Linked DNA regions of Homo sapiens. The protein of the gene in region 2 interacts with the protein of the main gene of each other region in a pairwise test. Each region holds a gene or a part of one and is shown on either strand. Other genes may lie near its edges. The genes, in order: EXOSC7 and KIF24.

Evidence for each region.
Region 1: the proteins of KIF24 (region 2) and EXOSC7 interact in a two-hybrid assay, tested with the Homo sapiens proteins (one large-scale study listed by BioGRID).

Annotation. Positions count from the first base shown.
Region 1 is NC_000003.12:44,979,201-44,983,019, reverse strand, and holds part of EXOSC7 (exosome complex component RRP42), read right to left. Parts: intron 1-3,819. UniProt on the Homo sapiens protein: Non-catalytic component of the RNA exosome complex which has 3'->5' exoribonuclease activity and participates in a multitude of cellular RNA processing and degradation events.
Region 2 is NC_000009.12:34,305,026-34,308,844, reverse strand, and holds part of KIF24 (kinesin-like protein KIF24), read left to right. Parts: intron 1-2,403; coding exon 2,404-2,593; intron 2,594-3,819. UniProt on the Homo sapiens protein: Microtubule-dependent motor protein that acts as a negative regulator of ciliogenesis by mediating recruitment of CCP110 to mother centriole in cycling cells, leading to restrict nucleation of cilia at centrioles.

The DNA.
Region 1 (3,819 bases), on a different chromosome or scaffold from region 2:
CCAGATTCCTAAAGGAGAAGTGAGACTAAATTCCTTCCCCTACTAGAAGGTGACTGCCCCCCGCCCTTAGGAAAGGGGCCACATTTGGTCCAGCTTTGCAGGCTCGGGCCCATCACACAGCAGGCAAAAGTAGGTGTTGATCCTTGTTTGACTTTCCAACCCTGTTGAGTAGCCAGGCATTCCTCTGAAAGGATATGGCTCCATAACTCTGCATCCTGCAGTGTCTGGGCATAAGGCTTTCTGTGCCATGGGTCTGTAAACAGAAAGGGCAGAGAGCTAAAAATCAAGAGTCCTGAGGGCTGGCTCCAATTCTGTCATGGCCAGACTGAGCAACCGAATACTGACTGCTCAATCTCATAGTTGAAAACCAGGCTGAGGCCCTGATCTCCCTCTTCCATGCTATACCCCTAAACAATGCTTATGATGAAAGCAAGATCCACAGAAAAGAAATGGAAGCCATCAGCTGGGCTACAACTCCCTTCAACAGCCAAGAACATACAATAAAATGGCTTTCACAGGGTTCCAAGAGCCCTGTGGTAGGGTTCGTCAATTGCCATGGCCAGGTCTGAACCTATGAGGGCCAGTTTAATGTCCAGGTCATAGCCATAGCACTCAGTAGGCTGAACCTGGGAAAGCTTTATTGTGCCTAAAGCCCTGTAAAGGCCACATAACAGTCACCATCCATCCCCAACAGCCAGGACCAGGGGTAGGTGCCTGAACCAAAGGCATATAATCCAAAGGGTGACCAACTCTTTTTGGCGTGAAATACTACCAGACCAAACTGATTCTCTCATTGCAATCTGGTCTCTGATCTGAGAAACACTTGAGAGAAGAAAGGAGTTAAAGAGGAGCTGACAGGTCATGATATGGAGGAGCCCAGAGAGGCCACACGAAAGTAAAGGTATTGGGCAGAGGCAGATTCTACAAAGAAGGGAAGCTGGACAGCAAGTGGCTGCAGAGAAGGGATAAATCTTGGCAGAGAAAAGCAGAGATGTCACTAGAGATAAAGACAGACAGCCACACAGGCCATGAGATAATCCACGGAGCCCATGAGAGGCGGTACCTCAGAGCTGTCTGGGGACTTTCCAGCTCTTGCCACAGATCCCCCTTCTCTTTTTTCTTTTTCTTTCTTTTAAGAGACAGAGTATCTCTCTGTCACCCAGGCTGGAGTGAAATCTCCAACTCCTGGGCTCAAGCGATCCTCTGGCCTCAGCCTCCCAAGCAGCTAGGCCTACAGGCACACACCACCACACACCTAATTTTTTTTAGAGATAGGGTGTTGCTATGTTGCCCAGACTGGATGCCAACTCCTGGCCTCTGGTGATCCTCCCACCTCAGCCTCCCAAAGGGCTGGGATTACAGGTGTGAGCCACTGCACCTGGCCTATCCCTTTTCTTGAGATAATTGAAAAATCCCGATTCCTTCAAATCAAAAGAGGTTTAATTCTCAGGAGCCACAGGCTGAATCTTTAATGAGGTCACTATGAAGGCTGGGGATCTAGTGTGGATGGTTTAAGACAAAGTCACACTTCTGATGGAAAAACAAACTTGAAAGGGAGCCAGCATTTTTTCTGTGTTAACCACAGCCCAAGTGCTTGACATCTCTTATCTCATCATTCCTCATAACCCCATTCTACTTCCAGGTGCATAAGTCCCCATTTTACACAAGGGAAGCAGGTTCAGTTATGCAAGTAAAACCACTTATTGTAAATGGTGAAGGTGCCTGCTCAGTCTGACTCCAAAGCCTCATTCAAAAAGAGGCAGGAAACCATATGACTTCAGCAGGAGAGAGCAGAGATTTCTTTATCTCTGGTCAGTGGCTTACCCATGGGCCAATGTCTGGTGGCTGCCCCCAAATTTCCCAACACTTTATGATAATGTCCATTCTCAGGCCCCAGCCCCAGAGAGTCTGATTCAGAATGTTGGGGTAAAGCCTCAGAATCTGTATTTTGTAGGTGAGTAAAATGCACTTCAAGGCTTCAGAATCCCTGGGCTAAGAGGGAGGTTAGCAATGGCTTCTCATGGATGAGGAAAACACACATCTAGCCCAGTAAGCCAGAAAAGAGGATAAATCCTAGATTCTAAAAATTCTGAAGTCTGCTCCAAGTTCTGCATGGTATGGGCAGAGTAAATCGTTTATGATACTAGTAAGACAAAAGCTATACAAAGAAATGCAATATAGGGTTCTAAAGGAACTTATACTCAATGTGGGAAAAATGCAACCAAAACAATACAGCAGTATATGCCATATACTATTTAAGCTCTAGAAAAACTGGGGAGTGGGAGGTGTCAATTAGAACTTTCTCTTTCCCTTCCAGTTTCCCCACAAGCTTTTAGAGAAAGGGGGAAAGAAAAGGAGGTAGAGGAAGCAAAGATTCTCTCCTGCCTTGATCTCTGGATCCCTACTGAGGAAATGGAAGAAATGACTTTCACTGCAGCAGGAAGGTGGCCTCAGAGTCAAGTATGGGCTTTGCAATCAGACAGGTCTGGATTTAAATCCCAGTGCCACCACTCAATTACTGTGTCACCTTGACAAGCGACTCAACCTGCCCGAGCTCAGTTCCTCATCTATAGAGATAACATTTACCTTCAGAACTGTTGTAAATATTCAATGAAATAAAAATTATAATATGTACCTAATAAGAATGGGATATAGCCTTCAAAGACTGAAAGAGAACCTAACAGAAACCAATCAAATTATTTATCAAAATACCGATTTAATCCACCTTTTTGATTCTCTGTTCTCCCCTGGGAGAGGGGATCTGTTCACCAGGTTGACTCAAATTGTATCACCTAGACTCCCTTTGCTGGCTTCTGGTTGGGTTTGTCCAGTGGAAGATACCAGATCAGAGGGTGCCCCTCACCCCCAATCTAGTGGCCACATTTCTGATAGTGCCTGCATCTATCGAAGACTATGACTTATGTTGGGCAGCCCTTCCTCCACAGTTCCAGCTATCACTGAAATGTGGTAATACTGTTTCCTCCCCTGGCCCCTTTGGAATAGGGGCAGTAGCCACTCCCAGTAGTTGTCTTGGGGCTCCTCAACATCTCTTATTGGTTCCCTGAAACCCCCCCCATACTGCTCTAGAGTCCCATCATAAAAGTCTCCTGAACTACCTGAAGAGGGTTCCATTTTCTGCCAATAACTAAAATGATCCACCCTCCCTTCTCACAAACTGACTTCTCCCAAGTGTGACACATCCTCTAGTGGCCATGTTTGAGCCTAATTATTCTGTCCATCCTTTCCCTCAACCCCCTAAAAGAACTAGAGTTTCTTTCTCTTGGAAACATGAGTTCAGAACTGAACGAGAAGGAATGGTCTCTTTTACAGAGGAACTGGGAAGGAACCACATTTTTTCTACCACTGGCCCAAGAAATAGAAAACCAATCTGTAGGGAGACAAAAACAAAGCAAAGAGGGGGAAAAAAAAAACCAGCAGAGATTAGGATTCCTGGAGAAACACTTGCAGCCTTGTAATCCATACTGTTTTGCTTGAGCCGATGTGTTGGTTACCATTACTAGCAACTGAATCCTCAACACATCGTGAGGTTAATTTCAACTGCTTCTAACTATCACCAAAACAAGATGAAATATTCCCTGAAATAGTAAAAGAACCAAAGGCTGAAGGGAAAGTGACATCAGAAGCTGAAATGGACGTTACTGGACCAAAGGTGAAAAGTAAAACACAAAATGACTAGGACTATACAAGCAACAGGAGTTCAGGCAGGCACTGCTTAAGGTGCACTGCCGGCACTCTATAACCAACGCAACAAAAGTTTAGGAGATTTCAGAACTGAATCAGTTGAGATTCCATGGTAGG
Region 2 (3,819 bases):
GCTTCCCAAAGCACTGGGATTACAGGTGAGAGCCACTCTGCCCTGCCCAAACTAGAGCTTTTTAAAAAAACATGCATGTCTTTTTGCTCCTTGAACTTGAAACTATGGGCCTTTTGTTCATATGAGTCATCCTAGAGCCCTGAACAATTTTAAAAAGGACCAAACATTTTCTATCCTCTTTGATCAGCTTTATATGATTAGGTTATTGATATCCAACAACTAAAGATTTTAACACAAAACCCTTATTAAAATGATGCATTAGGCCAGGCACAGTGGCTCACACCTCTAATCCCAGCACTTTGGGAGGCCAAGGCGGGTGGATCACCTGAGGTCAGGAGTTCAAGGTCAGCCTGGCCAACATGGCTAAACCCCATCTCTACTAAAAATACAAAAATTAGCAGAGCGTCATGGCAGGTGCCTGCAGTCCCAGCTATTCTAGAGGCTGAGGTAGGAAAATCGCTTGAACCCAGGAGGCAGAGGTTGCAGTGAGCCAAGATTGTGCCACTGCACTCCAGCCTGGGTGACACAATGAAACTCTGTCTCAAAAAAAAAAAAAAGCATTAAAAATTTTCATTTTTGATGAGCACAGTGGCTCATGCCTGCAATCCTGGCATTTTGGGAGGCCAAGGCAGGCAGATTGCTTGAGCCCAGGAGTTCGAGGCCAGCCTGGGCAACATGGTGAGACCCTGTTTCTACAAAAATACAAAAATTAGCCAGACATGATGGTGTGCACCTGTAGTTCCAGCTACTATTGGCTGAAGTGGGAGGATGGCTTCAGCCCAGGAGGTTGAGGCTTCAGTGAGCTATGCTCGCACCACTGCACTCCAGTCTGGGTGATAGAGCAAGACCCTGTCTCAAAACAAAAAATTCCCTTTTCTTGTGAAAAATCAAACATATGCAAAAGAAGAAAAAAATAGAACACTGAATCCCAATATGTCCATCATCCAATTTCTTTTTCTTTTTTCTTTTTTTTTTTTTTTTTTTCAGACAGAGTCTTGCTCTGTTGCCCAGGCTGGAATGCAATGGCACTATCTCACCTGTGAACTCCACCTCCTGGGTTTAAGTGAGCATGCCCAGCTAAGTTTTATATTTTTAGTAGAGATGGGGTTTCACCATGTTGGCCAGGCTGGTCTCGAACTCCTGACCTCAAGTGATCTGCCCGCCTCAGCCTCTCGAAGTGCTAGGATTACAGGCGTGAGCCACCGCACCTGGCCCGTCATCCAGTTTCAATGATTGTCACGATTTTCCCACAGTACCTCAAAATGGTACATTTCATTTATTCTGTCATTTATTTATTCCATCTGCAGTTTCATGCAAAAATGATGCATTTTAAAGTCCCTAAATGTTGGTTAAGAAAATAAAATTTGCTTTAAAACATGCCATAAAATTAGTGCTTTATGCATTCATTATATTAGAAAATTATTTGCTGGTTTTTTTTTTTTTAAACCAATTCAGATCCCAGTAAAAAAATTATTCTCCAGGCTGAGCGTGATGACTGATGCTTGTAATCCCAGCACTTTGACAGGCCAAAATGGGAGGATTGCTTGAGGCCATAAGTTGAAGACCAGCCTGGGCAAGATAGTGGGACCCTGTCCCTACAAAAATTACAAAAATTAGCCAGCTGCGGTGTTGTATGCTATAGTCCTAGCTACTTAGGAGGCTGAGGTAGAATTTCTTGAACCCTGGAGGTTGAGGCTGCAATGAGCCATGGCTGTGCCACTGTACTCCAGTCTGGGTGACAGAGTGAGATCCTATCTCAAAAAAAATTTTTTTTCAGCAGCCAGTTGGAGGGCTAAGGAAATCAGAATTGATATGAAACAATTGTATAAAATAGTATTCTATATATGATCTCTTAGGGGTTTTTTGTTTGTTGGTTGGTTTTTTGTTGTTGTTCTGTTATTTGTGTTTTTGCAAGGAAAAGGGCGGAGCAGGGTGGGGATGGAGATAGAAGAACTTTCTCAGGGTTGACACTTTACTTTGTAACTTTAAGAAATATATTATGCCTAATATACAGCAAAATGTACCAATACTTTTTTTTTTTTTGAGACAGAATCTGGCTCTGTCGCCCAGGCTGGAGTGCAGTGGCGCAATCTCGGCTCACTGCAAGCTCTGCCTCCCGGGTTCACGCCATTCTCCTGCCTCAGCCTCCCAAGTAGCTGGGATTACAGGCGCACGCCACTATGCCTGGCTAATTTTTTGTATTTTTAGTAGAGATGGGGTTTCACCGTGTTAGCCAGGATGGTCTTGATCTCCTGACATCGTGATCCGCCCACCTCGGCCTCTCAAAGTGCTGGGATTACAGGCGTAAGCCACCGCGCCCGGCTAAAAGGTACCAATACTTTGACCTGTTAAGTAATCTTGTCCTATTATTAAAAATTAAAAGCCTGTTTATAAACATATTAGACAGAACACTTCAGAGAAACAGAATCCTTGGACTGAGATGGAGAAAATCAGAGTTTGTGTTCGAAAACGCCCCCTGGGCATGAGGGAGGTACGTCGTGGAGAAATTAATATTATTACTGTAGAAGACAAAGAAACTCTACTTGTGCATGAGAAGAAAGAAGCAGTTGACCTCACTCAATATATTCTGCAGGTATGATGTTTTCGTTTTATGTTTGGAACTAATATTATCAAGTATGTCATTTTTTTTTGCTTTTTGTTTGAGTGGTGGCATACAAGTTTCTGTTAGAACACTGAAAATCAAGTTTCTGGTTCGGGTGTTGACATTCATTCCTGATGTGACACTGTATTAAGTCATTGATATCCAGGGCCTTCATTTTTTCAAAAGACGGTGCAATAGGGGATACAAAAACAATTTCTCTTGTGCAGTGGAGCTACATCATATATTCACTTAACATGCTTTGTGTGAATTTAATTATACATATTCAGCAAAAAAAAGGAGGAATGAAGGAATAAAAATAATTTAAATAATGAAGTGGGGCCAGGTGTGGTGGCTCACGCCTATAATCCCAGTGCTTTGGGAGGCTGCAGTGGGAGGATCACTTGAGCCCAAGAGTTTGAGACCACCCTGGGCACCATAGCGAGATCCTGTCTCTCCAGAAAAGATCTTAAAACTAGCCCAGCATGGTGGTGTGTACCTGTAGTCTTAACTACTCAGGAGGCTGAGGCAGGAGGATCACTTGAGCCCAGGAGTTCTGCATTACAGTGAGCTATGATTGCACCACTGCACTCCAGCCTGGGCAACAGAGGGAGGATCTGCCTCTAAAAGAATATAAAAATAAAAAACAAATAAATAATTAAGTAGTTGTCAACAGGACCAGTCACTGAATATATGACTATGAGATGTCACACAGTTGATTTCCATTCTTGCTTGCATCTCACAGTGTGAACTTCTCATTCTGCTGACTTTGAGACTTGGGTTTAATGATGGACAATATCTTTTTGGGCAACAGGACCGACAATTGCCAGCCACGTGCTTATTTTGATTCTCAGCTGTCTTGGGCTTATACTTAATTGGCGAAAATTGGGCTCTGAGCAGACCACTTTATACAGGGTAGATTGCAGTGGGTAAATAAAATCCAGAGATATGATTTCACATCTAACATATAAGGGTTTAAATAAAACACTAATAACTCAGCCATGTAAATAATGTTCACTGCCTGCTAGAGTGATTATGAAGAGTCCAAGGAGAAAGAGTTTGGTATTGAAAGAAACTTATTCCAAGCTGAAGGTACCTTGCAATAATTCTTTAGTCTCATAGGGAAACAGCAAACTCCACAGATGGAAAGAATCATCATTTAGGTACTCCTAAAATTGTGAAAAATTGTGAGTAATCTAAAACCAGATAATCCATTGGAT